Linked DNA regions of Homo sapiens: all the other regions are linked to region 5. The links come from fine-mapping of genetic effects on gene expression. A gene starts in region 5. Each other region holds a variant in brackets. All regions are shown on one strand. Distances are from middle to middle.

Region 1 (5,893 bases), 150 kb before region 5:
GGCTTCAGCGTTGTTGGGAACTCCACCGTTCACCCATTCCCTTCATAAACAACCTGAGCAGTACGTCTTCCTGGGCAGTGTTAGGGCAGGGTAGCTGACTATCCCAGTTTGCCCTGGGCTCTCCTGGTTTTAGCACTGAAAGTCCCATGTCCCATGAAACCTCTCAGGTCCCAGGCAAGCTGGGACAGTTGGTTACTGTAGTTGGGAGCGTTGTTAGTGATATCTCCTCCCATGCTCGGGTCCATCTTCCAGCTGTGATTGCTTTTTGAGGATGCAGCAGCACCTGCGGCCTCTTCCAGGCTCCCCCCACCTCCCCTCTCTCCCTCAGCTCTCGGGTTGTTTTTCTAAAGCAGCACATCAGAATCACCTGGAGGGCCTATTAAAGTACCCTCAGAGTTTCTGATCTAGGAGGTCTGGGAGGCAGCTGGAGAATTTGCATTTCTAAGTTCCCAGATGACCCTAATGCTGCTGGCCAGGGACCACACTTTGAGAACCCCTGATCTTAGCCACAGCTCTGATAAAGTCTCACGAAACCTCTCAACCCTCCCCATAGCTTGCTGAATAAAGGCCTAAGCCTGGGTTGAAGCCCCTCTTTATCTAGCCCCCTTCCCCACCGCAGCAGGCCCCACCCCAACAGGGTGCCCCGCGTCCCCAGGGGATACCTTGCTCTCTCCTACCTCTGTGTCTTTGCTCAAGCTGTTCCTGGCCTGGACTCTGCAGCCCCCTCCACCCATGTGAATCCTCTTATCTGTGAAGCGCACTCAAAGGCTACTTCCTCTGGAGGCCTGCCTGGGCCCCCATCCCTCGGAACACAGGACTCCTTCCTCAGCTCCCAGCTTAGCGCCTATTTCATCCTTGTCACTGCACTGTGGATTCCTTGAGGACATGAACTATCTTTTCCCATCTTTGTCTCTATATTTGCTAAATAGATATGACCCCAGAAGACAGAACCAGGACAATGGATGGATCTGCGGGGAGGCAAACTTGAGCTTAACCTGAGAAAGAACTTGTAACAACCTGAACAGTTTGACACCAGCCCTTAAGGGTCCTGCCAAGAGATCCTGAGCTCCCTGTCGCCCCTGGGCATCTTCAGTGGTGTTGGACGAGCATCTACAAAGTCTCTGAAACCCCTGCTTAGACCAAGTACTGACTACCTCAATGTCCCTCCTGGGGCCCTCTCTCCCCAGGAGAACCTGACACCCCCCCATCAAACCCGCTGCCCAGCATGCCAGACCCACAAGGCCCCACAGGCTGGCTGGACCTTACTGGAGACCAGTGGTCACAGCAAGTGTGACATTTTGTCAGTGGCCTTCACTGTCTGAATACAAGGAGTGACCAGTGGTGACACCCTCCTGCTCCAGGCCAGCCTCCCTGCCTTCCTCTGATCACCGCCTCCCCCGAAGGACCAACCCCACCTCGATGTACTCACATCGCCTTTCCTTACCTCATCCATATCTCACGTGGCCAGGGGAAGCAGCTCATCTATGGGCAAGCTGAATATCCACAGGTGCGCTCCCAGCTCGGGCTCCTTAGGAACAGGAATATCCTCCTGCAGAATATTCTCCAGTGCCTTCCCCATGCTGGGTGCATGTAAATGCTCAGATGTTCATTTCCTGATGTGCGTTTCCCATCGATGTCCTGCTGGAACCCTTCCCTCACAAGTGGTGCTCTCCCAGGTGTGCTCCAGCGGGCAAATGCCCTCCTCACCCCTCCCCATCTGATATTAGGAAAGAACCTGTGAAACCCATTCCAACCAAGAAGCCTGGGACTGAGGCTTTCTGCCCCTGCCATCCCTGGGGAAACGTTACTGTTTAAATCCGATAAGCGTGAAAGCCTCGCTTGATTGCATGGCAGCTAAGCATACTATGTGTAGTGGTGTTTATTTGCTGATTGGTTGATTTGGAGAGGAAGGAGAAGGATTTTCCAGAGTCTAGACTCTTATGGCTTTGTGGGGCTTTCCAGGGTCAGCATCGATTGTGAAAGTTTGGTGAGCTTGGCAGTTTGTATCATTTAAGAAAATCTGCCCGGGCTTCCTCCCCCACCAGGAAGTGTCCCATCAGTTCCAAAGCCCTCAGCTTAGTTATTGGAAAGGCCTGAGAAAGCCACGACCCAGCGGACCCAGCTGGGGAACACCTGGGTCTCAGTTCACCTTCTGCCAACCTCTAGGTCTTACGAGCATTCCTGTTTCCTCTCCTTCCCTGGGCTACTTGAGGTCATGACCTTCTGAAAGAATGCAGGGTCAGCCAGCCTGGCTGAAATTTCCCCTCCGTGGGTGTGAAAGGCGATATGTCCAACTGTGAACACACAGGGCCCACATCCTTATGACTCAGCAGATGCGGCTGTCCTCAACCACATCGCCCAGAATGTCACTCTGACCTGCCTCAGAGGTCTGACAGCAGAATAGATTCTGCAAAGCCTGGGCCCAGGAGGCGCTTTCTCCATGAGTCCTTTTGGACAACACACATTCACCCAGACACACACTCAGATGCACACACACACACACAGACACATCCACTACAGAGACAGATGTGCACACACTGATACCCAAACGTACCCCAAACGCAGACACGCGGACATGCACAGACACCCAACACACACATGCACACACAGGCCCCCGGACAGTCAGATACACACACAAAGACATCCACACACACAAACACCCAGACACATCCACACACGTCCACACACCCCACAGAGACATGTCCACAACGGGTGCCTAGGTATGCCCAGAAACACACAGTTACCCGAATACAGCCAGACACACACACACACACACACACACACACACACACACACACACACACAGACTCCTCCAGAGGACTCAGGAAGAATCAGATCTGTCCCGTATGCCTGACCTTGAATGCCTCTGCCAACCCCAACAGATGGCCACTGGCTCTCCGACAGGGCCCTCTGGTCTCTGACCAAGAACCAGGGTCACAATGGACAGAGAAGGGGAAAATGGTAGAACTACTAATTCAC[C/T]ACCGTGCAGTTAACCCGCAGAAGTCTCATTCTTTCATTTAATTGGTAGCTTTCCAAAGTTCAGCCACGAGAAGGCGTAAGGACAAGCAATCAGAATACTAACCCATAACTTCCTGTCCCTTCTCTTAGCACCCATCCTTTAAGGCCAAATTAAAGTCCACCTTGTTCATATAGTCCTCCAGATTCCCAGAGTTAGAAACCGCAGCTTCTCCCATGCGCCCCTCATGTCATGCTTCTTGGTCTCTTTTTTTTTTTGAGATGGAGTTTCACTATTGTTTCCCAGGCTGGAGTGCAATGGTGCCATGTTGGCTCACTGCAACCTCTGCCTCCCGGGTTCAAGCGAGTCACCTGCCTCAGCTTCCCAAGTAGCTGGGATTACAGTGCCCACCAGCATGCCCAGCTAATTTTTGTATTTTTATTAGAAACAGGGTTTCACCATATTGGCCAGGCTGGTCTCGAACTCCCGACCTCAGGTGATCCACCTGCCTCAGCCTCCCAAAGTGATGGGATTACAGGTGTGAGCCACCGCGCCTGGCCCACCATTGATTTTTTTTTTTAAAGACGAATTGAGTACCAACTGCTCTGTTCACAGCTTTCTTTTCCTTTTTGTCTTTCTTTAAGAGACAGGTCTCACTGCAGTGACTATTCACAGATACAATCATAGTTTGCAATGTAGCCTCCAACTCCTGGACCCAAGCAGTCCTCTCGCCTCAGCCTCCCAAGTGGCTGGGACTACAGGTGCACCACTGTCCCCAGCTGACAGCTTTAAGGTGAGTGCAGTGGCTGTGTCAGTCCATGCCTGCCAAAGGAATCAGTGGAGACAAAAAGAAGGAGCAAATTCAAACTTTCCTCCTTTTGCCCTCTCTCCTATGTGGGTTCAGATTCTTCAGGAAGCAGATGCCAAGATGGGATGAGAAGTGCTGGAGACCTGGGGTGTGGGATGAGGAACGCCTATGAAGGATGAAGGGGAAAGGAAGCAGGAGTAGGCAAGGGAGAGCTTTCAGGCCATGATGTAGGTGTGACACCTAAGGAAGGAGGGTGGGAAGGAAGGAGGGCTGGCTAGGAAGTGCCTCTGATGGCAGAGCAACCCAGAGAAGGGCTCAGCCAGGTGATGAGCAGTCCAGGGGCAAATATTAGAAGGGTCCCATGCTGGGCAGGAATGGCCTGGTTCGAGTACCCGCCGCGTGTCTCCCATCCCACCATGCTCAATCACTGGCCAAAAGCAGCCTACGGAGAGTGAAGACCTTGTGGCTACTCTGAGAATGCTCTGAGAATACCTGGGCTGGGATTTTTATTCCCCTTTTAAGGAGAAGGGGTAGAATATACCCCTGCCCCTCCCAGCCCTGCCTCCTCAAACATCGCCTCCTCTTGGAGTTTGAGTAAGGACGTGGGTCTGAGGACAACTTCCAAGGCCAACTGGGCTGAGTTTGCCAGCTCATGCTCCAGGTGCCTTCATGTCTCTTTGGACTTAAACCTACAGGCTAGAACAGTATTTGAAAAGTCAGCTGGCACTTAGCAAACTAATACAACACCCTGAAGGGGTGGCAGCTGGGGGCCAGCAGTGAATAGCACTCTTTGCTGCGGGTTCTCTCTTGAAGGCACTTCCGGGGCTGCCACACTTCTTATCTCCTTCCCTCCTTCCTTCATTCCCTCCTTCATTCCCTCCCACCCCACCTTTCCTCCTCAGATCTTCATACCATCTGCCAGGCACCAGCACACTGTGGAGCCCCATAAATGAACTGACACAGTCCTTCCCTTCAAAGAGCTCCCATCCAGAGCTTCCTCTTGCACCCACAGACGGGAAGCTTGCACGACCTTCCGTCAGGCTGCCCGGCCCTTCCGGACAGATCTTCCAAGCACCTCCACCACCCTCTGTCTTGCCAGCCAGCCCAGAGACAAACACTCAGTGCCTGCTCACAGGGGCAAAGTGTGTAAATAAGTGAAGCAGCCAAAACAATGAAACTCTTTGGCTATTTGAAGTATATTTCTAAGTTTCAATGGCAACATAATTCTTCCCAGCTTTTTCTTCTTTTTTTTTTCTTCTTTTCGAGACAGAGTTTCGCTTTTCTTGCCCAGGCTGGAGTGCAGTGGTGCAATCTCAGCTCCCTGCAACCTCTACCTCCCAAGTTCAAGTGATTCTTCTGCTTCAGCCTCCTGAGTAGCTGGAATGACAGGCGCCCGCCACCATGCCTGGATAATTTTTGTATTTTTAGTAGAGACAGGATTTCACCATGTTGGCCAGGCTGGTCTCGAACTTCTGACCCCAGGTGATCTGTTCACCTCAGCCTCCCAAAATGCTGGGATTACAGGCGTGAGCCACTGTGCCCGGCCTTCCCAGCTTCTTTCTTACCTTAACCCCCCATGCACCTCACTTTTATCCACTACTGTCTTGAAATTAACAAATACTTGTTGGGATGCATCATAAAATAGTATTTCATCTATAAAAACGAGTGAAAAAGGCAGATACACACCAACCACAGCAGAGTTACACTGTGGAGATTTTTTTTTTTTTTTTTTGAGTGGGAGTCTCACTCTGTCACCCAGGCTGGAGTGCAGTGGCATGATCTTGGCTCACTTCAACCCCCACCTCCCGGGTTCAAGCAATTCTCCTTCCTCAGCCTCCTGAGTAGCTGGGCTTACAGGCACACGCCACCACGCGTAAGAGGTGAACTACAACGTCTCTATGAAGGAAAAGTCAGGCCCTGGACTCCACAGACAATCAACTCCTGAGTAAGAAAAGAGGCAGGGTGTCCAGTGCCCAAGGGTGCCTGGAATATAAAGCCTACAAAGATGCTTGTCTCTGCCCTGCTGGTGGTTTGGCACACCTGACCTCATAAACCAAAGATAGTCTGTGCCAGGCTGGGCCCATAGCTCCATCTCCCAGGGGTATTCAGAAGCTGGATGTAAAACAGGA
Region 2 (5,893 bases), 60 kb before region 5:
TCTATGAGGAATGAATGTTAGTATTCTTAGTCCCAGTGTACAGAGGTGAGCACTGAGGCCCAGAAAGGTTATTGATCAGGATGACATAGCCTTGTCATTGCAAAATCTCAGCTAGAACCCAAGTCTAGGACCCACCAGATGAAATCACAATGTCCATAAGCAGACTGGGCTGGTGGGGATCCAGGTTTGGGTAGAGTTTGGAGAGGAGGCAGCCTAACAAGGTTAATCATCATAGTGGGGGAGCATCACAGTCAGAGGACTTGGTATAAACAGAGAGTTGTACAATTAGGAAACTGAGGCATAAGGATAGGTCATGTGACTCGCCTGAGGTCATCGCAGAGTTAATGGCAAAGCCAAGCCTCAAAGTCAGATACCCAACCGGCTGTCCACAAAGCCTCTGAGATAGTTAGAGCAGTCTAGACCATTATTATTCCCCTTCAGGCACTAGTACCCAGGGCTGGGCTCAGAAACCCATTACTCCAGGGACAGAGACAGCAAGCATGAAATGGAGTCCATGGCAGAGTGGCAGGCAGCCCTGAGCCAGCTTCCCTGAGTGCTCCAGGGGCCCTCCCCACAGGGAAGGGCACCAACCACCTGCTTCTGCACCTCAGTTCAGTGACCAGCAGGAGCAGATCTAAGTCCTCAGAGACTTCCCAGTGACCATCTTGCCCGGGGGTCCTCCCGTCCCCTTACTGCCATTTGCCATCATTGCCCCATGTTTTCTTGCCACCCAAAATACCCACTGCTTGAGTAACTCAGAAAGTTTTCTGGTTCAGCTTAATGGCTCAATAAGGGGCCAGCAGACTCCAGACTTAAGAGGTACACTCTTAGTGGCTCTGGGTTAAAAGCTACATACAGGGAAATGCCTGGGATATTTGCCCCAAATGCAGAAAATAGCAAAATAGCACTGCATCTGAACCACTCCATCATTAGCATCATCCTCAGTGAGACAGTCTTCAAAATACCCGGAGTGGCAATAACAACAACAAAGTCAAGTTCAGCAAGCAACAGATACATAGGCCAACACTTAGGTAGCATTCTATGGCAGCCACTTCAGAGACGTTCCCAAACACAAACTCATGCATCTCTCCATTGCCTTAATCTCCATTCAATCAACACTGTCTGGGCATCCAGTCTGTGCCAGGATCTGTGCTAGGCACTACGGGGCAGGGACCAAAGGCACAGACAACAGGTACAGATGGAGCTCTAGGGAAAGAGAAGATCCTGGGGGCTGGACTGGGCAGAGAAGGCTTTGTGGAGCCAAATTTATCTTACATCGTCCACTGACTCTAAATTTTTAGCTATTTCAGTTCCAAATATTGGCTCTGAGCTGTGCACACACTAAGGGCTGACGCAGGTGGAGTGGAGCCAGGCCTCCCAGAGCCAGAGTGAACACATTCAGTGTGAACTCTAACACATATGGTCTCTTGGAGCCACTCTGGGCCTCGAGGACAGCGGGTGCCTTGGTAGGTGCCAACAAACACTTGACCGAGCTTCCAGGCCCGGGTGGCTCTGAGTCTCAGTGTCAAGGCAGCCACACGCCTCTCCTCTCCGACACCTCAAGCAGCCGCTGGCAGGGCCTGGCATTTCAGAGTCCCTGTGACCTTGTCACAGAAGCCCTGAGTTCCTACTTGACCTGTGGGGAAAGCAAAGCTTAAGGGTGGTAAGGGATACACTTAGGTTTACAGAGCACATAGGCAGTGGCGCAGGGCTTGGCTTGGCATCCAAATCCCCCAGCTCCCAGCCCTGCACTGTGTTGACAGCCTTAGGACTTGTGAAACGGCAGAAGGGCTTTTGTAAACTAGAGCTAAACATTTCAGGCCATGTTGACGTTGTTTCCCCTTCCTCTTATGAGGGAAACAGTGGCATTTTTTTTCTATATCACATGCCTGAAAAATTCCTCAAACTCTCAAAAAGCAAATGAGTGTTTGCTTTTCCTGCCTGAGTTTTCTCTTTGCGAGACAGCTGTGGCAATGAGTGGTGACCGGGGCAGGCCCACTGCACAGGCATCTTTCCCTCCCCAAAAGGAGGTATTTTGAGAGTGGGTGACTACGATGGCGCCAAATACCACACACCACCACTCGTCTCACCTGTCTTCACTCAGGCACAGCCCTCTGCTCAACCTGTAGAGGGGAGCCTCAGAGGGAGCCAAGGCTGCTGGCTGGTGTCCCCCACTCCTTGGGCTGTTTCCAGAAGAGCAGAGAACACCCTCCACCAGACCCAGCCCCCAGGCTTCAAGATCAGACAGGCCTGGCCTCAGAGACTTATGCTTTCACCTGCTCTGAACATAGATTTGCTCATCTGTCAAATGGGAATCAGGGTTCCCTGCTAGAGAATTGTGAAGACTGGAAATATTTGTAATGTTGGCCCGTGGTACTCAAAAGTGGTTCATGTGAAGGCTGAGCAAGAGACATCCAGAGACATAAGTCACTGATTCAAATGGTCTGGAATGTGAAACCAAGGAATTGGTTTAATTTTATTTATTTTTAGAGATGGGGTCTGGCTCTGCTGCCCCGGCTGGAGGGCAGTGGTGTGATCATAACTCACTGCAGCCTCAAACTCCTGGGCTCAAGCAATCCTCCCAACCTCAGCCTCCCGAGTAGCTGGGACCACAGGTGCCTGCCACACCACCCAGCTTCAGTTTAATTTTAAAAGCACCACCCTACCCCGCCAATGATTCCCACGCACAGCCAGATGTGAAAATAGCTCTATTCCGAGCAAGTAGCCAACTCTTTAAATCCTAGAGCAGTGGTTCTCAACCCAGGCCACACATTGATATTGCCTGGGGAATTTTAAAACTCCTAGTGTTTAAGTCTCACCCTGAGAGATTCTGATCTCCTGGGTCTGGGCCTGAAGATGGGGCTATTTAAAAGCCCGCTGGGTAACTGACATGCAGCCAGG[G/GCTGAGAACCA]CTGACTTACAACAGCTTTCTGATTATCTCCATTTCACAAATGAAGAAACTATACCACTGTTACTCATACTAGTTCCTCATTTTCAGTATTACACTTCCCCATAGTTCTCTGATCTGATCATTTCAGGAAAGGAGTAAAGAAAGGGAATCAGAGGGGAGGGGTTGTCTCTCCCATCAGCATGATTTTTGCTTGAGGGGTTCACCAGTCTAACTGCTGTGTTATGAATATGCAAATCAAGGCAGAAGATTACTCTAGCTTTCGGAGGATAACAGGAGTGAAAATTTGCAGTCAGGCACTCCCTGGCCACTGTACTCAGCAGATGCACAAAAGCAGAACCTGAGGTGGCTCTAGTATGCCCATCAGAGGGCCCAGCCAACCCAAGGGCAGGTGACAGCAACAGGCCTTTTTCTGCACACAGAAGGCTCTGCAGCCAGAAGTTGAGGTCCCACAGTGCAGAAGTCGCCAGCTAGGCTACAGGGATGATGGGTGGGAGGCGAGGGTCTGTCTACTTTAGGACAGAGCCACCCAGAATGTCATCCAGGGAGGGAGCAGAAGGGAGCAATTCAACCTCTAATGAAAGTCATTGCTAACACTAAATCAAAAATGATGGGAATACTGGAATCTGGTATACATATGCAAAGCACACATATTCCAGTATCTCTGCCCCCCATAGCAACAATCAATACCTATGCATGGTCTACTGCAGCACGGGGCTGGTAGGAGGCCCGATTCCTCGTCCTAATCTGCTATCAAAGTTTCATGGGCTTGACAGGGAGCTGCCTTTTCAGTTCATGTTTCTCCATCTGCCATCCCAGGTCTCATCTTAGAAAGCTTCCTGTCAGACAGCTCCAAAGAGCCTGGGACAACTCTAAACAGGAATGAAGCCCTTTCTCTTCACTCTCCAAATTCCTAACTCTGGGCTGGTGTCAGGAGACTGGGAGTCTAGTCAGAGCCCTACCACTAACGAGCCAGGACCCTGGGCAGCCTGTTCAACTCCCCAGGCCTCAGTTTCCTTCTTTGTCACATGGGGATGATAATACCTGCCCTGCCCACTTCCCAGGGTTGTTTGGGAAATCATGAGGTAATGTCTGAGATAGGACTTTACCATCCAGCCTTGCAGAAGAGCATGAGGTGTGGGTGGGTGGGAACTCTGTGCCTGAGACTGGCTTGCAAAAGTCACGTAGGATGGTTTCGTGAGGGACAGTAAATCCTCAAGATACAGAAAACACCCCGCTTCTGCCAGCACACTCTCCTGCAATTCTGTCAGGAACACACCCCTCTTCCCAGGCAGAGGACTCAGCTCCTCACTCACTCAGCACCTGGGAGGACAAGTGGGCTGTGTCAAGATCAGTGTCACTGGCAGATGGGCCTCATTTCCAAACTTGTCAGGCCCCCAGGTGCCACCTCATAAGGGCTCTCTAGTTGTCTGCCCAGGACTCACATTAAAAGGGGTATACCTAGAACAGCTTCTCAGTGCTCAGAAATGTCCCCAACCTCAGCTCTTAAGGTTCATGGAGGAGCCTGGCTTAATCCCCACCCCCCAAAGTCTTCACTGTCAAGGGTAAATAAACAGGGCATGAACCAAATGTCACACCACGGGATCAATTTTGTATAGCAATGTGAACATTACAACATTTACATCCAGCTTTTCCTTTTTTTTTTTTTTTGAGCTGGAGTCTCGCTCTGTTGCCCAGGATGGAGTACGGTGGCGCAATCTCGGCTCACTGCAAGCTCCACCTCCTGGGTTTAAGTGATTCTCCTGCCTCAGCCTCCTGAGTAGCTTGGATTACAGGCACCGCGACCATGGATGGCTAATTTTTTTCTATTTTTAGTAGAGACGGGATTTCACCATGTTGGCCAGGCTGGTCTTGAACTCCTGACCTCAAGTGATCTGCCTGCCTCAGCCTCCCAAAGTGCTGGGATTACAGGCATGAGCCACCGCGCCCGGCCAGCTTTTTTCTTAATGAGCTAACTTCATATTCATTCTCTTTTTCAATATTTGCAAGTATCATTTTTAGTTCCATTTCACAGATAAGAAAACTGGAGAGGTATGGTGGCTCACACCTGTCATCCCAGTGCTTTGGGAGGCTGAGGCAGGGGGATCACTTGAGGCCTGGAGTATGAGACCAGCCTAGCCAATATGGTGAAACCCTGTCTCTACTAAAAATACAAAAATTAGCCAGGCATGGTGGTGCAAGCCTGTAATCCCAGCTACTTGGGAGGCTGAGGTATGAAAATCACTTGAACTCAGGAGGCAGAGGTACCAGTGAGCCGAGATCATGCCACTGCACTGCTGCACTGCAGCCTGGGTGACAGGGTGAGACTTTGTCTCCAAAAAAAAAAAAAAAAAAAAAAGCCAGGCAAGGTGGCACAACCTGCAGTCCCAGCTACTCAGGATGCTGAGGTGGGAGGATGGTTTTCAGCCCAGGAGTTTGAGGCTACAGTGAGCTATGATCATACCACTGCACTTCATACCACTGCACTTCAGCCTGGGCGACAAGCAAGACTCCGTCTCTAAAAAAAAGCCAATAAAAAAGAGAGAGAGAAAACTGGGCTTAGAGAAGTAAAGTGACTGGCAATTGGGCCAGGGAACAGGGCTAGGACACAGATCCACGTCACTGACTCCGGCTACAATGAGGCTCTCGAGGTAACTGACCAGTAGTGTGTACCAAGTAGTGAGGAGAGGGGCCCATCCCAGAAGAGAACAGTATTCGACATTGTTTTGAATTGCTGGCATGTGGTGATAGTAAAAAGCAGACTGATTTTTACTCGATTTTATTATCGGTTTGTTTGATTTATTTATACATACATACACACACATACATACATACACACACACATACATACACACGCACATACATAGTCTCGCTCTGTTGCCCAGGCTGGAGTACAGTGGTGCAATCTCAGCTCACTGCAACCTCCACCTCCTGAATTCAAGCAATTCTCCTGCCTCAGTCTCCCAAGTAGCTGGGATTACAGGTGCGCACCATT
Region 3 (5,893 bases), 52 kb before region 5:
GTCACTCCAACCAAGCCGAACTCAGGGTCAGCGGTGAGGAGCACATGTAGGCTAAGTACCAGGAGCCAGAGTCTCCAGGGAACTGACTCCTGACCTATAAATGGCCCCTGTCCACAAAGTCACAGGTGGCTGTTCTGTATGGGCCTGCAGCAGCTGCTTTTAGAGGCTGGCTTGTTTCATTCCCAGGTCCTACAGACTAACTTCCTTCCTCTAGACATTTTTTTGTTGTTGTTGCGGGGTACAGGGAGTCAGAAAAACTAAAGCACAAAAAGGAAGGAATCACTTAGCAGGGCCAAGCTGGGCTAAAGTATGACAACTATTTTTTAACTTAAGTACATTTTGATGCTGTTGTCAAATGAGCTCAAGCCTGCAAGTCTAGGACCTGAAATAAGTTAGGCTCAATTAAAGTTTGACTTGGCTACGTAAAGAAAGATTTTCACTGAAAATATAGCTCAGTATCCTCTGATATTTCCCTTAGTCTAGAGTCTAGATTCTAGACACTAAACATGATGTAGGTTACTGAGGAAATGCTGGGCTTGGAAGGTACCACCCACCACCCACCCACCTGCCCATGTACTCACCCAACCATCCACCCATGCATCCTCCTAACTGTCCACTCACCTATCCATCTGTCTCTCATTTACTGATCATTGTCCTAAGTGCTGTAAACAAGACACACCTCACAACTTGAAAGGCTTATATAGTCTATTGCAGAGATTAGACAAACGCAGATGAAAAGGAAATATAGCCTGGGCATGAAAGAACTATCTGCAACAGCTGGAGAGGCAGGGAGTGATACACAAGCACTTCATTCTGTGGAGGCCCCAAATAACCTCTCACCTTCACTCCCTCCCTATCAGGTTGTGGCCACTTTCTCAAGGAAATACATCAGGAAGCTGAACCTGCCCTTTCCTTTCCTCCTTGTGGGAGCACAGGGAAGGAGAGAACAAGCAGTCAAGGGACCAGTCGGGCTCAGTTGGGTCAGGCACCCTTCCCACCATCTGAGTTCCTGACAGTCAGATGTATGTTTAACAAAAGAACTTCAACAGAGCAGGTCAGTTTGCTCCCTCCTAGAAATGCCAGCCAGGCCCATAGCCTGGGCAAAGCCCAGGAGACAGAACCAAAGGATAATACCTTAAAAACGAGCTTGTGCTGCCACGCAGGAAAAAGACTGCAGAAAGAAGATGGGAAAATCCAGGATGGTTTGAGGCTCTCCTGTTACTGTGGGGGTACAGGATTACCCCTCATAAAATGGTAAAGTGAACCATTCATGTTCTAGAATACCTCCCTCCCCACTTGCCCTCCCCTCTCCTGCATCCAGCCCGCCTCCTGTGAACTTTCCACCTCTTCCTGGCCCACAACCCCCTGTGATCTTTCCCATAATTCATGTAAGGTGACAAAGGATCCCTAAGGGTTATCCTGACCTCCCTCCAAAGAAACACCTTCACAGTTTAACACTATTTGTGACCAAGAAGGGGCTTGAATAGTGGCAAGTTTAGGCACACATGGGGCAAAGTGGTAAGATGACTTGGAGATAGAAAGGTCTTTTTACTTTCCCAAGATTCACATTAAACAGGTGGCTCTGCAGAGGGCTATGTGTGTCTGTGTATGTGAATATGGATGGTGTACAAATCATAACCAGTTATTTCTTGCCCAATTTTTTTCTGTCCACCAGGATCTTAAGGCCTGAGAGATTCTTGATGTAAGAATCTTGTTTTTCACTGATATAGTCAGCTCTTAGCCATCTAGGATGGATGGTCTCTGTTTCTCAAAATGTTTGTGAATTTTTAATCCCATGTTTATTTCTTCACCATGACTTGAAAATGCCCAAGATTGCTTGCCTCTCCCAGACATGCAGGGCTGTGAATGGGGAAGACTACATATCACGGGCAAAGTACAGGGTTAGGGGTCCTGGCTCTACCACCAACTTCCAAGCTTCCTTTTCCCTTGGGGCCTCAGTTTTCTCATCCAAAAATGAAGGATTGGACCAAGATATCTCTTTCAGGTCCTCATGCCAATCCCTGTTAGAGTCTCTGATGCAGGTCAGTGTGTGACATACTGTATCACAGGTATCATATGTTTCATATTGATACATATGAAACATTCCACAGACACACACGGTGGTTTCTGGGTTTCCTACCGCACAGGGCCCAGCCATGGGTCCAGGCTACTGACATTGATCTGTCACGTGTCAGCCAACTAAATTTTCAAAGACAAAGGAGGACCAGGGCTTCAGGCAAGGAGAGCAGATCTCAGGGACTATCTTCATGGCCAGGAAAATGCTGAACTCTCCAAACACCACAAAAGTATTTCTATAAGAAATGACCTGGGCATTCATCTTGGCACTCAACTATAAGCCAGCCTGTAAGAGCCTGGAGAGTAAGAGGTGTTATCTTCATAACTCTCACAGGGCCCACCTCAGCACCCGGCACAAAACAGGTATTCAGCCAGTGTTTGTAGAAATGATGACCTAAGCTGAAGAAC[C/T]GGGAAGTGTGATAAAGGGCCTTGTCATCCTTGGCTGGCCCCCAGTGCAGCAGGAACCCTTCATTGGCAGACTCACTTACAAATAAAACATTCTTGATTGTTTTTGATTAGAAAAAGAAGAATGTTAAAAGAAAAGGAAGGAAGGAAGGAAGGAAGGAAGGAAGGAAGGAAGGAAGGAAGGAAGGAAGGAAACGCACAAAAAGGAAGCTAAAAAATGTTCCTTAGTCCCACCTTTCTAAGATAACCATCGTTATCATCTTGGTGTCTGCCCCTCAGATGTTTTTCAGCACATACTGAAATCTTTTTTACTTTTTTTTTTTTTTTTTTTTTGAGACGTAGTCTCCCTCTGTCGCCCAGGCTGGAGTGCAATGGCTCCATCTCGGCTCACTGCAACCTCCGCCTCCCGGGTTCAAGCGATTCTCCTGCCTCAGCCTCCTGAGTAGCTGGGATTACAGGCATCCGCCACCATGCCTGGCTAATTTTTGTATTTTTAGTAGAGACCAGGTTTCACCACATTGGCCAGGCTGGTTTCGAACTCCTGATCTCAGGTGATCCGCCCACCTCAGCCTCCCAAAGTGCTAGGATTACAGGCGTGAGCCACTGTGCCTGGCCTGTTTTTTTCATTTTTTAATGTAAGTGAGATGGTACTGTAGATACTATTTTGAAGCCTGCTTTTTAAAAATTCTCCCCTTAACAATAGATCATTAACATCTCCTCATATAATTAAAAATTATTTTAATATCTAATTTTAAATGGCTGTATAATATCATATTATACAGGTAAACCATGGTTTTTAAAGCAAATTCTCAATTTTGGACATTTATATCATTTTCAATTTTTAATATTATGATACTGTTATAAATACACACATGTATAAATCTCTGCATACATCCCTGGTTGTTGTTGTTGTTGTTTTCTTTTTGAGACAGGGTCTCACTCTGTAACCCAGGCTGGAATACAGTGGCACAATCATAGCTCATTGCAGCCTCAGCCTCCCAAGTGGCTAGGACTATAGGCGCCCACCACCACACCCGGCTATTCCTTTTTCTTATTACTTGTAAAAGCTCTTTATGTATTTGTGATATTTAACCTTTTGTCAAATATGTTGAAAAGATTTTCCCTAACTGATTTTCTTATAGGCCAGAGTGGTTATGGGTTTATTGTCTAAAGAAGCTATAGGTCTTTCTCAGCATCAGAAGGTGGTAACAAGTTTTTTCCCTTCACTTCGCCTGCCTGTTACTTCAATCACCCAACTGCTGTGTCTTAGGGCTACTCTGAAGGGAGCAATTCTGTGCCTCAGTGACTCTTGCCATTGCTGGTCACATTGTTGGTCACTCCATGCAGGGTATACCTTCAAACTTACTGCACGACCCAGGGGACCCACTGCCATCCCTTGTCCCCCTGACCTGGTCCTTTCCTCAAAGTCACTGCACTCTTGCTCCGGGCAATGTCCCTCCTGTTAGCTGACTAAAGGAAGGCATGGCATTGGAGGGTGAGCAGGTCCTGCTGCAGAGCGTGCCTGGTGCCCCCAGGGTGGGCCACAGCTGTGAGGCAACCAGCACAAGACCCCTTTAGAGAGGCAAAGCATCTCTCCTGACCCCAAATTATTCAGCATGTGTGTAGTGTCCTTTACAGTAGGACTCACATGTTGGCTTTCTTTCAGAAATTACCAGAAAGATGTTTGTCTACCTCATTTCAGATAATGAAAATGATGTCATCTATCTTATTTCCTTTTTGTTATCTTGGTACCAAATGACAACAACTATGATGACCTAGATGTTGGGTGTATTTCCTCCTTCTTCCTTTGCACCATGGATTCTCAAACTTGGGGGCATATCAGAATCATTTGGGGAGCTGGTTAAAAATTCAGGCACAGCCAGATGCAGTGGCTCACACCTATAATGCCAGCACTTTGTGAGGCTGAGACAGGAGGATCACTTGAGGCCAGGAGTTGAAGACCAGCCAGGGCAACACAGTGAGATCCCATCTCTACCCTGCCCCCCAAAATTGTTTTAATTAGCTGGGCATGGTGGCATGTGCCTGTAGTCCCAGCTACTCAGCAGGCTGAGGTGGGAGGATCATTTCAGCTTAGGAACAAGAGACTGCAGTGAGCTATGATGGTGCCACTGAACTCCAGCCTGACAACAGAGCAAGACCCTGGCTCTAAACACAAAAATATTAAAAATAAATAAAAATAAATGAGACACCCGGGCCTTATTACACATTTGCTAAATCATACTCTTCTGGAGGGCATCTGGCTTTTGATCTTCCACTTTTATGTTTGCTTTCTATGTGCCTCTCATCATAGGTTGCCTCAAATTCTTAACATGCATGAGCAAGAGGAATCATAAGTGGTTCTGTGCTGCCATCACTGCAGCGTTCACTCCAGGACACGAGCATGGAGAAATACAGTGGGCAGCAGAGCACGACTTCCAAAACGGAGCTTAGCCCATTTCACAGACGGCTAAAGGGAGTCCCAAAGTGTGAAAGGCTTTGCCCAAGGGAGGACTACTCAGGCAATCATGTACAGCCGATCCTAATGGCCAAGTTCATTGTAGAGCAAAAAGCATTTATCACAGGAATGAAATGGTGCCACCCCCATCCCCCTCTGCCCCCACGCTTGCAGGTGGCCTATTCCCTCATCCCCACCCTCAAAAGATTTGGCTTTAGGTCCACACCCAGCCTTTCTGCCCACAAGCCTGGAGGGCTGGGTGGGGACAGAAGGAACAGGTCCAAGTCCTCTTAGAAGCACATCTTCCTCTACACCTCTCCCATCCAGCCCTACTCCCCAGCAGACACCAGAGCCTCTGTCAGGCAAGCGGCTCAGAGTGCAACTGTGCCATCTCCTCTGTCATCACCACCCCCAATTAGCAACTCCCAGGTGCCTTCAGGGTTGCCACTCCTGCCCCACTCCTCCAACTCTGCTCTAAGCCATTACAGGCTTTGGCACTGCCTGACAGGTTTCCTTCAAGCCTAATTGTCAGGGCGCAGGAAAGGTATGTGTCAAATCCAACATGATTTATTTGTCCTTTGTCTACCCCAGCTGCAATTTATTTTATTTTATTTCTGAGACAGATTCTCGCTCTGTCACCCAGGCTGGAGTGCAGTGGCACGATCTTGGCTCACTGCAACCTCCACCTCCCAGGTTCAAGCAATTCTCCTGCTGCCTCAGCCTCCCAAGTAGCTGGGACTACATGTGCCCGCCACCATGCCTAACTAATTTTTGTATTTTTAGTAGACATGCGGTTTCACAATGTTGGCCAGTCTGGTCTCGAACTCCTGACTTCAGGTGATCTGCCCACCTTGGCTTTCCAAAGTGCTGGGATTACAGGTGTGAGCCACCATGCCCGGCCTTTGCTGCAATTTAAAATGGACCCTAGCCTCTAAAATGGTCTCTTTCCTCTAGAAA
Region 4 (5,893 bases), 100 kb before region 5:
TCAAGACCAGCCAGGGCAACTTGGAGAAACCCTGTCTCTACAAAAAAAATTTTTAAAAATTAGCCCAGCATGGTGGCACACACTTGTAGTCCCAGCTACTCAGGAGGCTGAGGTGGGAGGATCACCTGAGCCCAGGAGGTTGAGGCTGCAATAAGTTATGATTGTGCCACTATACTCCAGACTTGGCAACAGAGTGAGACCCTGTCAAAAAGAAAAAAGAAAAGAAACCGAGACTATAACATTAGTTTGTATTATCCCTCATTAGGAACTTTAACCTTTATCTCTCAGGCCCCAAAGTTTGTGCTCCTAACCGCTAGACTAAATGATTCCCCTTCCTTGCTTCTCAGGGGTCTTATTAATCTAGCCCAGGAGGCCGGGCGCAGTGGCTCATGCCTGTATTCCCAGCACTTTGGGAGGCTGAAGTAGGTGGATCACTTGAGGTCAGGAGTTCAAGACCAGCCTGGTCAACATGGTGAAACCCCGACTCTACTAAAAAAAATACAAAAATTAGCTGGGCGTGGTGGCACACGCCTGTAGTTGCCACTACTCAGGAGGCTGAGGCAGGAGAATTGCTTGAACCCGGGAAGCAGAGGCTGCAGTGAGCTGAGATCGTACCACTGTACTCCAGTCTGGGTGACAGAGAGGGACTCTGTCTCAAAAAAAACAAAACAAAAAAAATCTATCCCAGAGAGAAGCAGCAATGCCACTCTGGCCTGGCAACCTGGGGCAACCTCGTGCCTGGCTCAGACACAGCTGTTTTCCTCCTCTGGCACCTGTGTCCTACCCCAGGGTGCCTTTTCTTCTGGTGATGCTTCCATGCAAGTGAGTAGCCCCAGAACCCATCCCTGGCCTCAGGAGCTCCTGAGCAGGAGGTCCTCAAGTCAGATGAGAAAACGGAGGTCCTGGCAGGGCGAACACCCAAGCTGGGTCTGGATAAAAGGATGAAGCCTGGGGGTTTCAGGCTGGAAGGTGGCCGTGGGGCAGTAGGAATGCTCTGTTGGGTCGTCAGGACCCAGGTTCTCGTCCCTACCTTCACCATTCACTTATTGGGCCATTTGGACCAGACATACCCATAGACTCAGACCTGCCCTGATTGGGAGTAAACAGAGGCCATGGCTCCCTGCTATCCAGCCATGTTTCTGCTTCCTTCCTAGGCCACCAAGGTACCTATAGGCTGGCCAGGGGATTTGGGCCCCTAAACCTGAAGCTCTACCTGCTTTCAGACAGGCTTCCTTCTTGCTGTCCCAAGCTCCACTATTAGCCTGATGACAGCCAGGACAGAGGGTAGGGACTAACATTTACAGCATGTTTACTAAGCCAAATTTGATGCTAGTGTTCTATGTGATCCTTGCAGCCACGCTGAGTGATAGGTACTGTTATAAACTCCATTTCACAGATAAGAAAACGGGGCTCACACAGGGCTAAATGATTTGCCAAGGTGCAACAGCTTGTAATGTCACAATCAGTGGGGAGCAGTGGGGTGGGGGCTTCCCTGGCAGTCCAATCCCTTTCTCCCCAACACATCACTGAATCTGGTTAAATATCTTCAGTGGTCCCACTGGCCACCGGAGAAAGTCCAAATGCCCCACCTGATATTTGAAGTAGTCAAGGCACTGACTGCCCCATGCTCTCTTTCCAGCCTCACCACCCATCCCTTGCCTGTACCTGCTCTATATCCCCGCAGGGTGGGCACTACCACTCCACAACGACATCTCAACTCCATCCTTTGCTCTGGCTTGGAATGCCTGTCCTACTCCTCTTCATTTTCAGAGCCTCTTCCCCCTCAACCCTGCCTCCCCTTACTCCCTTACTTAGAGAGAATCTTTTTCTAAAAAAAGAGATGAGATGTTGCCCAGACTGGATTTAAACTCCTGAGCTCAAGTGATCCTCCCCGCTCAGCCTCCTGAGTAGTTGGGATTACAGACATGAGCCACCCTGACCACCCAGCTAACTCCCTTACTTCTCCCTGAGCTTCCCCCAACCCTGTGCTCTAACCCCTCCGTGTTGATGACGCTGGCCTGCTGGCAGTCCTAAGCTGTAGGCTGTCTCTCACAGGTGATGCCACTTTCCTGGGTGGCAGCCTTTTCCCTGAGAAAATTCAAATTGGTTTTAGGATTCCTGGTATCCCCTGTGGCGTCTTGCATCCTGCATGTTCCATTAATATTTGAGGAAATGAATTGAAAGAATCCAGGGCCAGAGGCTCCTCCTTTTCTGCCAGGCCCCGCACCACCACTAGGGGCTCCAGAGTGCATTCCTCCTATAGGGCTGTGATGCGGATGGAGCAGGAAGGAACGGCACTAAGGGAGGGTCCAAAAGGAAGCTAAGGGTCAGCAGAGTGGCAGTTCCCCAGGAATTTGGTCTAAGCTTCTCTGCTTCCACCCTCCCCAAATAGAGCAGGGTGGTGCAAAAGAGCCCAGGCCTGCAGATTGGAAAACTGCAGGTCCAGCTCCACCACCCAAGGCCATGTGAGCTTAAGCAGGCCACGTCCTTTCTCTGGGCCTCAGCCCCCCAACTGTAAGTCAGGCAGTGGATGGCATCCAAAGCCCCTTCAAGCTCTGGGCTCTGCAGTTTCGAGATGGCACAACCTCCCAAGCTGGCTGTGAAAATTCCTACTGCTTTGGGCTCTAAGGCAGGACGTGTAAAGGCGCAGGTCTCCTGGCCCCAGGTCAGGAAGAACAGGCTGCTGCAACCACACACTGCTGGGTCCAAGCCAGAGTGCCCTCTGGGGCAGTCCGAT[T/C]CTATCCATACTCCCCACTCCTGTCATTCTCCTCCAGCTTTATTTACTTCAACCAAATACTTCACCCACATACCTGACATCACCTCCAAAGCACGGCTGGAGGGAGGGGTCACATTCCCACAGGTGCCGCCACTGCCCAGCCCAGGGCCTGCCTGCCACCAGGAGGCAGAAATACCCTTGTCAAAACAAACCCACCCAGCTCATCCCGCCAGGGAGGCACCCATGGGAGAGGCCAACGTGCTCCTTTGTGTCCTGGGGGATCTGGCCAGAGGTGCCTGCTGTGGTGCCGACCAGAAGGTGGTTGTCCGGTGGGGCACCCATGGCCTGTGGGCCCAGCACAGCGTGTCCTGAAGTCTGAGCAGGATGAAGACACCCTTGGGGGGCTATGTCATAAAGTACAAAAGACAAAGGCAAGTCTGGGTTCAAATCCCAGCTCTGCTGTTCACAGTATGAAAACTGGACAGACACTGGAGCTCTTAGAGGCTCAGTTTCCCATCTATAAAATGGGGGCAAAACCTACTGAGCCACGGGGTTGTTCTGTGATTGAGAGAGATGGTTTATGTAAGGAGCAGCACCCAATGAGATTTCAGACAACAGTGGCTATGTTTGCTCATTCTTTTCTGGGATGCAGCATGAACAGTCATCCCTGGGAGCTCACAATGTTGGGGCTGCAAGGGACCTCAGAGATCATTTAGTCCCTTCATGTCAGAGCAGCCCAGAGACATCAAGAAACTACCAAGGTCACTGAGCAAGGACCTCCAGCCCAGTGCCCTCTCCAGATGCCCGTGTGGCCTGCCTGCTGCTGAGTGAGGCTGCTCTGCTCAGCAAAGCAGAGGCCCAGCCAGGGCTGTGCTGTGGGGACAAGGAAGCTGCCTACCAATCTTCACCAGCCATGTCAAGCACAGCCCCAGATTATTCAGGCAGTGCTGGGCAACCTGAGAAAGGAAGGCCGCTCCATGCTAGGCCTCTGTGGACAGGTTTTGAGGGTGCTCAGCTCCCTGTCCTCACACACTGTCGATGGGACCACAGCCAGCCCCTCCCCACAAGTCTTCAGTGTGGCCCATGCCCAATACGTGCCTCTGTGTGGCATTCAAGGCCCTGCTTCCCCACCTCCTACTCCCTGCCCGCTTTCCCTCTGCTACCTCTCTGCTACCTCTTCATCACCCCATCCCACCCTGCAGTTCACTCTGCTGGAACAGCCTTCCTGACAAGCTCCTTCTCCCCCTCTCCACCCAGTTCCCACACACACTGGAACTTCTTCTATGATCTCCCTCCCCTCCAACACACAGCTAGTTGTCCCCAGCTTGCACACACCTCTGGCAGAGAATCAGCTGCACTACAATTCCTTCCTTACATGTCCTGTCCCCACTATACTAAAACCCCATAAGGAAGGACAAGGGCCTTGCCTTTCATTTCCATCCCCAGCACCCAAGGGCGGCTGGCATTATAGCAGGGCCCAGTTACTGTTTACTGGACAAATAAAGAAATGGGCCAATGCGGTCACATATGCATCTCTCACACATCCTGCTTTTGGAGAATATAGATAATGGCTAAGCATGCACGCCTTGGAATCTGGGTTCGGATCCCAGCTCTGCCATTTATCAGCAGCCTGACACTGGGCAAGTTATTGAACCTCTCTCAGCATAGGTTTCTCACCTATAAATTAGGAATAACAATCATAAAACCTATCTCAAGAGGGTTACTAGGAGGATCAAACAAGGCATATAAAGTGGCCTATAGGTGTTATCATAGTCTCTGTGACTATTTCCTTGATGATGTCTCTCCTTCCCAGAATGAGAATCTTTATCATCTGCCTATTGAACTCCTAACCACATTTCCAGGCCCTGCCCAAACCTTCTTTCCTCCAGAAGCATCATTTGGATATGCAGCCCAGCTCTTCTTCCTTCTCCCATCTCCATTCATGCAACAAGCTTGATCCATAGCACCAACCACCACCAAGAGCTCTGTGAGTGAGTCTTGCCTTCCCCACTTGTATTAGTCCATTCTCGAATTGCTGTAATGAAATACCTGATGGGCGCAGTGGCTCACGCCTATAATCCCAGTACTTTGGGAGGCCGAGGTGGGCAAAGCACCTGAGGTCGGGAGTTCAAGACCAGCCTGGCCAACATAGCGAAACCCCATCTCTAAGAAAAAATGCAAAAAAATTAGCTGGGTGTGATGGCACACACCTGTAATCCCAGCTACTTCAGAGGCTGAGGTAGGAGAATCGCTTGAACCTGGGAGGCAGAGGTTGCAGTGAGCGGAGATCACACCACTGCATTCCAGCCTGCATGATGGAGTGAGACTCCATCTCAAAAAAAAAAAAAAAAAAAAAAAAAAAAAGATTTAACTGGTTCATGGTTCCATAGGCTGTACAGGAAGCATAGCAGCTTTTGCTTCTGGAGAGGCCTCAAGAAGCTTACACTCATGGCAGAAGGTGAAGGGAAAGCAGGCACATCTTACCTGGCCAGAGAAGGAGCAAGAAGGAGAGAGAGGGGAGGTGCCTCACACTTTTAAACAACCTGATCTTGTGAGAACTCACTATCATGAGAACAGCACCAAGGCACTAAGGGGAAAATCCGCCCCCAAGATCCAGTCACCTCCCAACAGGCCCCATCTCCAACACTGAGGATCACAATTCAACACGAGATTTAGGTGGGGACACAGATCCAAACCATATCACTGCTAGACTGCACACTGGCTGAAGGCAGGGCCTGCTTCTCACACTCCTCCTGCGTTCCTCCACACACGCAACCTAGAGGTCCGTGTAGAACAAAACTTGTAGCACTTCACAGTTTACAAAGGAGTCACATGTGTCTCATTTTGTCACAGTTTACAAAGAAGTCACATGTGTCTCATTTTGTCCTCACCCTGTGAAGCAAGTGCTGTCTTGCTTCTGACCCCTGTAAAACTGACCCCAGTTTTACAGATGAAGAAACCAAGGCACAAGAGATCGTTTGCCCACACTGCCTCAGCTAATAGGTAATGGAGCTGAGATTCAAGCACAGGCTGACCCCAAATCCTGTGTGCTCTCCACTCTCCCACATGGCCTCCCCTCCTCTAGCTGATGCCGGCGTGCCTTCTGAAATCACCCTTGCCTGCTGGTTTGCCATTTCCAACCTAGCTCTGGTGCCTCATCAGTTTGCTGTGCAGCTC
Region 5 (5,893 bases):
CATGGTGCTAGATGTCAGCAGAGTGGCTATCCCCTCACTCAGGGGAGAGTTGGAAGGGGAGCTTCGGAGGCTTCAGAGTGCCAGCAATGTTGTTTCCTGATCTGGGTGGTAGTTAGATGGATATATGGGATGATTTTGTATGTGATCAAAATTTTACATAATTTTTTAAAATGAGACTAATGTGAGACAAATGAGATAACCCATGTGTAATGTTTTAAACGGTCCATGGATAACGTGAATTCCTTCCCTCCTCTTTGTGACTTGGAGCCCCATAAGGGCAAGAATTGTGACATTCCTACCTCTGTCCCCTTGTCGTAGGCTAGTACACAGTAGGCACTATATAAGTGTTGGCTGATTTTAACTTAGTTCCCCAGCCTCCTTTCTCAAGGCCGCTACTCAGATGCTCATCAGGTAAAACAACTGATAGCCACTTCAAGCACTTTCCTAACACCTCTCCTAAGGCGAATTTGCATTTTACCAGTTTAGAAACAAACTAAAGGGGTGAAACTGAAGTGGAATTATAGTCACCAGCTAGGACCCAGATAAGGAGCCAGAGGCACAAGGACCTTTCCAGCCTCGAAAAGCTGAAATCACATGGCAGAGGGAAGGGACACAGTTACAACTTTTGGCCAGAAGCACAGGCCATCAGCTCCAGATGCTCCCAGGATGATACCCACCTTAATGCCCATGTTTCTCCTGATGGAGTCCTTGGAATTCAAATTCCTGCCTACAACTCTAATACCAGGCAACACTTCAGGGGGCTACCACAGATTTCCTAGAACCCCATAGATCATCTATTTAGGGATTTTTAGAACTGCTTCAGGATCACCAGGGTGAGAAGGGGAAGCCAGAGCAGTTCCACGTTATCCATACTATATGTTGGCGTTCTGGGTAAGAATTCACTGTGAAACAGAAGTTTGAAAACCACTGCTGTCTGGTCTAACCCACTTGTTTTTACAAGAGGAAGCTGAGATCCAGAAAGGGGAAGGGACTCACTGAGCATCATACAGGTGACCCATCCCGCTCCTCTTCCCAGGGCTTCTTCTGTTGATAGCCACCCCAACTCCTCCAAGATGTCACCAGGGTTGGCAAAGTCAGTGGCCTCCTGAGGGACAAGCTAGGAGGAGGTGTCTAGGGCTGGAAGATCACCTCATAGGAAACTCTCAACACTCAAGAAGCCCTCTCCACCACTGGCCCAGCTCACTCTGCAAAGTGAACTCTCTCAGTTCCTCATCCCACCTCACCAAGTGCAAGTGAGTGAAACGGGACCACAGCAAGAGGGCAGGCAATGGTTGGGCAAAACACACACGACCGTCTCATTACACACACCCCCATTAGGAATCATCACACTCAGGCTCTGGAGAGGCTGCCAACAGAAGGGATGGGGCTCCGGCATTACAGAGCTCCTCTCTACATTCCAGGCTTTGACCCATCACAGTCTCCAATGAGGAAGCTGGGGCCCACAGAAGGTCAGCCACCTGCCTGAGTTGACACAAGAAAAACTTGGTCTCTCTGGCAAAGATCCAGCTCCCTTGGGAAGCCTGCTTGTTCACCCCACAGCTAACAAATCGGGAGGCCTCAAGGAGGTGGGCAGGGTCAGTGCGGGTCTCATTCCTGCCAGCCAGGAACTTACCCCAGAGGAGCAGACCTCCAGCCACATCCACACACCCCTGACCCCTCTGCCCAAGTCTCCTCTGAAGGTGCTGAATCATCAGTGGTGCCACTTGAGGGTGCTCAAAAAACATCTTGGGAGATGAGCGGTTTGGGGAAGGACAGGGCTGTGAAGTTAGCTGTGAAGAGGCCAAGGCACCACGGCCTCTTAGGTCAACAGGACTCTCCCAGGAATATCTTCCACAGAGGCAGTTGGGAGTCGCAGTGTCAGAAACCAGAGTGGCTGCCCTCCACAGGATTCCAGGATACAAGATGTCAGGCGCTGTCCCTGCACCTGCCCGCTTGCCCCCGAGGCAGCCAGCTATGGTGCCCTCTCCTCCAGTGTGCACCACTGCCTTACCATTACCTGCACGGCCTCAACGAGGCTCACCTCTCTGGACCTTGTTTTCTCTTTTGTAAAGTAAGAATACCAATTTCCACCGTGCAGAGTTACGGTGAGGGTTAGCCAGACCTATGCAAGCCTTGGGACCTCCAAAATGCCTAGCCCAGAGTCCTAGTCAACTGTTGGCAACGCCCTTCCAAGCCGTTCCACCCCAACCTGCAGCACACCTGCTGGCCGCCCCCACGCCCATCCTAGCTCTACCCCAGGCCGGGGCGCCTGACGGCGGGGACCCCAGCTTCATTCAGCCCCAGAGGAAGCTCAGACATCTGAGCACCCTCCTCGCATCACATCCTTGTGCCAGGCGGGAGCAAGAGGTGAGAGAGTCAGCCCAAGCTGAGAAGACTTGGCCGGGAGCCGGGCGTGCTCTGCCCGTTCCAGGGGGCCTAACTCGATGGACGTCTGTCTCCCATCTCCCTGCTGGGTGCTTGGCTCTGCCCGCCGCCTCTACCCTGTCTCCCAGGTCAAAGTGCCAGGCTCCGGAGGGCGCCCCAGGGCAGCGGCGGGCAGCTCCCGCGCTCGGGTGCCGGCCACAATGCCCCGGGCCACGGCGTCAGGCATTGGGGCGGCGGGCCCGGGATCTGCGAGCGAGTGCCCCGGATCTCTTCGCCCCGCCAGCCCCAGACCCGGGCGCTGCTGCCGTCAGGCCGCGCGCCCCGTCCCGCCCATCGAGCCCGCAGACGGGTGCTACTCACGGCGGGAGGCTGAGCTGCCGCGGTCGCGGCCGCGGCAGGCGCGGCGGGAGCGGCGGGCGCGGCGGGCGCGGCGGGCGCGGCGGGCGCGGCGGGAACGGGGGACGCGGCGGGGTGCGCTGGGCTCGGCCCTGCAGTCCTCTCCTCCCAGAGCGCCCGGCACCCGCCCGCCGAGCAGCCTAGGAGCCGAGGGGGCGGAGCGGCCAGCCCCGTCCCAGGCGCCGGCTGGAGGCGCGCCCGGCTGCCCGGGACGGGGCTCGGGGCGCCCCCTGCTGGAGCCCCCTCCGGACAGTCCCGGGGCGAGAGCCCAGCTTCCCGGCCGGGTAGGGGACACCTCAGGGCTCCCAGACTCCCGGGAGAGCGGGGAGAGTCGGTAGCAAGACCCTCTGCGCGTCCCTACCGGCTCTACCGCGCACATGCTGCGTGGCCTTGGGCAAGTCGGCTACCCTCCCCCGGCCTTATCTGGAAATCGATTTGAATGAGCTTATACGTATGACATGGTCTGGCACAATCCTCAGAAAATGGTACTTGTGTGCTCCTCTCCCCACCATACACACCGTGAGCGAGGAAGCCCCACTGAGGAATAGGCCGTCTCCTCCCTCCCAGCCAGAGCGCTCCCTACACCGCAGACTCTCCTGGAAACCTCAAGCCCACAGCGTACAGCAAGGTGGGGGCTGCGATGAGAAGGGCCGCTCTGCTCCTCACTGCCCCCGACCCAGCCTGAGAGCGGCCTGCCCTCGTTTGCCCTTTGTCCTGGCACGGTTGCTGAGTGAAGCCCCCCTCTCACCATCACGCCTTCTCTAATAGAGGACTTGGGAATGGGTTCCTCTCTCTGCCCTCTGCCAAAAAATCCCTGAGGAAAAAAGGAATGAGAGTGAGGGGGTGAAGGGAGGAAGGAAGGGAAAACAGAACTTAAGCCAAGTTCATTTGTCTTATTTCAAAACAAGAGGCTGTTTAGAGGAAGCAAATGAGGACCCCTCCAACCCCTGGAATTTCCATCCCTAAGTCACCCATGGGGCTCCTCAAAAGGGCCTTAGATTCAGAGTCCTACCACCAGGTTCAAAGCCCTGCCCTGCCACTCCGCATGTGTGTTCTTGGGCATGGCTCTTTCTTCATCAGTAAAGTGGGAGAAACGCACCTTCCGGTAGCTCCTAATGAAGCTATGGTGGGGCTGAGATGAGATGGAGTGTGTAAGATGCACCTAGAGGACCTCTACCAGTGTGAGCACACACACACCCTTCAGCCTTTTGGACATTGGGACAAATACAGATGGACCCCACCCCCCAGCTGAGCAGTGCCTCCGGGTCCAGGACATCCTCGGCAAAGAGTTCCTTGTTTATAAACTTCACAATAATTCAGAACAGTGCAGCCAGCGAGCCTCCTCTCCTAAGAGCAGCATGATATATAGAGTAATATCCAAGACTAGAGGTGGTTTCTGATGTCAACGGACCTAAGGGAATGACACCCACTGGTGAAGTTTCACCAACATGAGAAGTCCCCCACCAAACTATCCCTAAACACCTCTTCCTCCATTTCCATTTACCTATCACTGGTGACAAACCATTACCAGCCTTGGTGGCACAGGACAACAGTTTCACTATGTTCATGCATTCTGAGGGACAGAAGTTCAGACAGCACAGTGTGTATGGCTTATTTCTGCTCTGCAGTGTCTGGGATTTCAACTGGGAACACCTGAATAGCTGGGGGCTGAAATCATCTGGAGATTTCTCCATTCTCATACCCAGTACCTGGGCTGTGATGAATCCAAGGCTGGGCTCAGCTGACCCTGCTGATCACCTACATGTGGCCTCTCCATCTCTTTCCCTTGAGCCTCATGCTTAATACCTCATTGTCAGCAGCAGCAGCCCCTTACATGAGTCAAAAGAGACATTCTTGGGTTTAGCAATTGACAAGTTAGTCAGAGTCCATTGCAGCTGGAAGGGTCATTGTCAATTGACCCTGGCCACTTTTCAGATGAGGAAACTGAGGCTCGGAGAAGGGAGGTGACTTGCCCAACATCACATAGCTGGTGAGAGACAGAGCTAGGATTAGAACCAGGCCTCCTCCAGATTCAGTCTGGTGCCCCTTCCACTGTACCTGCCAGAATGCAACTATCTAGGAAGCTACCATCTGGAGATGCATCTTATGCTTAAGGTTGGGTGAGTTCATCAGACCCTCACCTGAGGGCAGCGACAGGGCACTGAACACAGGACCAAGGTGGCCATCAGCAGAAAAGGGGAGGCCCCGAGGACAGTGGCAATGAAGACACAAATTCCAGAATGAAGCCAGAGGCAGTCCAGGTATTAAGAGCTAAGAATTATCCAACTCAGTTCCAGTCCCTGCATGGTTCCCATGGCTGACCAAATCGAGTGTTAATGCCTCACCCTAGCATTTAAGGCCCCAACCCTTATTTTCCTGCTGTGTATGCACATTCCCTTCCCTCCTCTGCATGCACATCCAGCTCTTTTGCCAGGTTGGATTATTGGCTGTTCCTGCCTCCATGCTTTTGTTCGTTTCCACTACCCTTCATCCCATTCTACAAAATCTTATCTATCCTCTAAGAGCCTTCTAAAGTATCATGTCTTCCACAGAAACTTCCCTGGTCTGCCCTCTAAATACCTCTCTCCTTTGAACCTCACCACTCTTGGTTGGTACATCTCTTGTCATCTTCCTTCCTCTATTTTAATTAGTGTCTACTTCTCCTTTTCTCAAGGGCAAGTACAATTTCTTGTCCATCTTTGAACCCATACAGTGCTTGATATCCCAAACCCAGTAAAGGTTTCTTAAACTGAATTAAGGAAGGTAAATATCACAAGGGGCCATAGCTGTCTTGTTTTCTATTGTCCCCTAAGAGCACCCAAGCACCTGGCACTTAGTAGATGCTCAATAATCTTACTTCAAGTGCTTCACTTCTAGGGGGATGTCATTATCCTCTTTTACAGATGATGTAACTGAGGCTTGAGAAATTTGATTTGCTCAAACTCATCCAATTTGTAAGTGGCTGAGCTGTGACATGAATCTTGCCTACTGGTCTCTGAAGCTATTCCCTCTGCTGCCTTCCCTCAACTGAAACTTCCAAGATTTCTAAAACAGTGTTAATCTGGAACTTTTCAGTCCAGGCAGTACATCAGAATAACTGAGAATAACATGG

The links. PIP is the estimated chance that this variant, and not a neighbour inherited with it, causes the effect.
Region 1: its variant is fine-mapped to the expression of DAPK2 in whole blood (INTERVAL, PIP 0.97).
Region 2: its variant is fine-mapped to the expression of DAPK2 in whole blood (TOPMed, PIP above 0.99). The same link has a PIP of 0.9 or more in lymphoblastoid cells.
Region 3: its variant is fine-mapped to the expression of DAPK2 in lymphoblastoid cells (TwinsUK, PIP 0.95).
Region 4: its variant is fine-mapped to the expression of DAPK2 in whole blood (TOPMed, PIP above 0.99).

The regions. Positions count from the first base shown.
Region 1 is chr15:63,894,662-63,900,554 of GRCh38, forward strand. No RefSeq gene overlaps it. Among named protein-coding and RNA genes, the nearest start is that of MIR422A, 27 kb to the left of the region's middle. RefSeq lists enhancers at 2,148-2,197, 2,398-2,447. The variant C/T (reference allele first, on the strand shown) is at 2,980.
Region 2 is chr15:63,983,954-63,989,846 of GRCh38, forward strand. The region is part of intron 2 of DAPK2 (death associated protein kinase 2); the gene reads right to left. Among named protein-coding and RNA genes, the nearest start is that of DAPK2, 60 kb to the right of the region's middle. RefSeq lists an enhancer at 1,487-1,988. The variant G/GCTGAGAACCA (reference allele first, on the strand shown) is at 2,902.
Region 3 is chr15:63,991,794-63,997,686 of GRCh38, forward strand. The region is part of intron 2 of DAPK2 (death associated protein kinase 2); the gene reads right to left. Among named protein-coding and RNA genes, the nearest start is that of DAPK2, 52 kb to the right of the region's middle. The variant C/T (reference allele first, on the strand shown) is at 2,485.
Region 4 is chr15:63,943,220-63,949,112 of GRCh38, forward strand. All of the region lies in intron 4 of DAPK2 (death associated protein kinase 2), which reads right to left. Among named protein-coding and RNA genes, the nearest start is that of MIR422A, 75 kb to the left of the region's middle. The variant T/C (reference allele first, on the strand shown) is at 2,738.
Region 5 is chr15:64,043,553-64,049,445 of GRCh38, forward strand. It overlaps DAPK2 (death associated protein kinase 2), which reads right to left and starts at 2,933. Exons shown (of 12, transcript NM_014326.5): 1 at 2,746-2,933. RefSeq lists enhancers at 1,217-1,266, 1,317-1,366 and silencers at 2,567-2,786, 2,817-2,876, 2,897-3,106.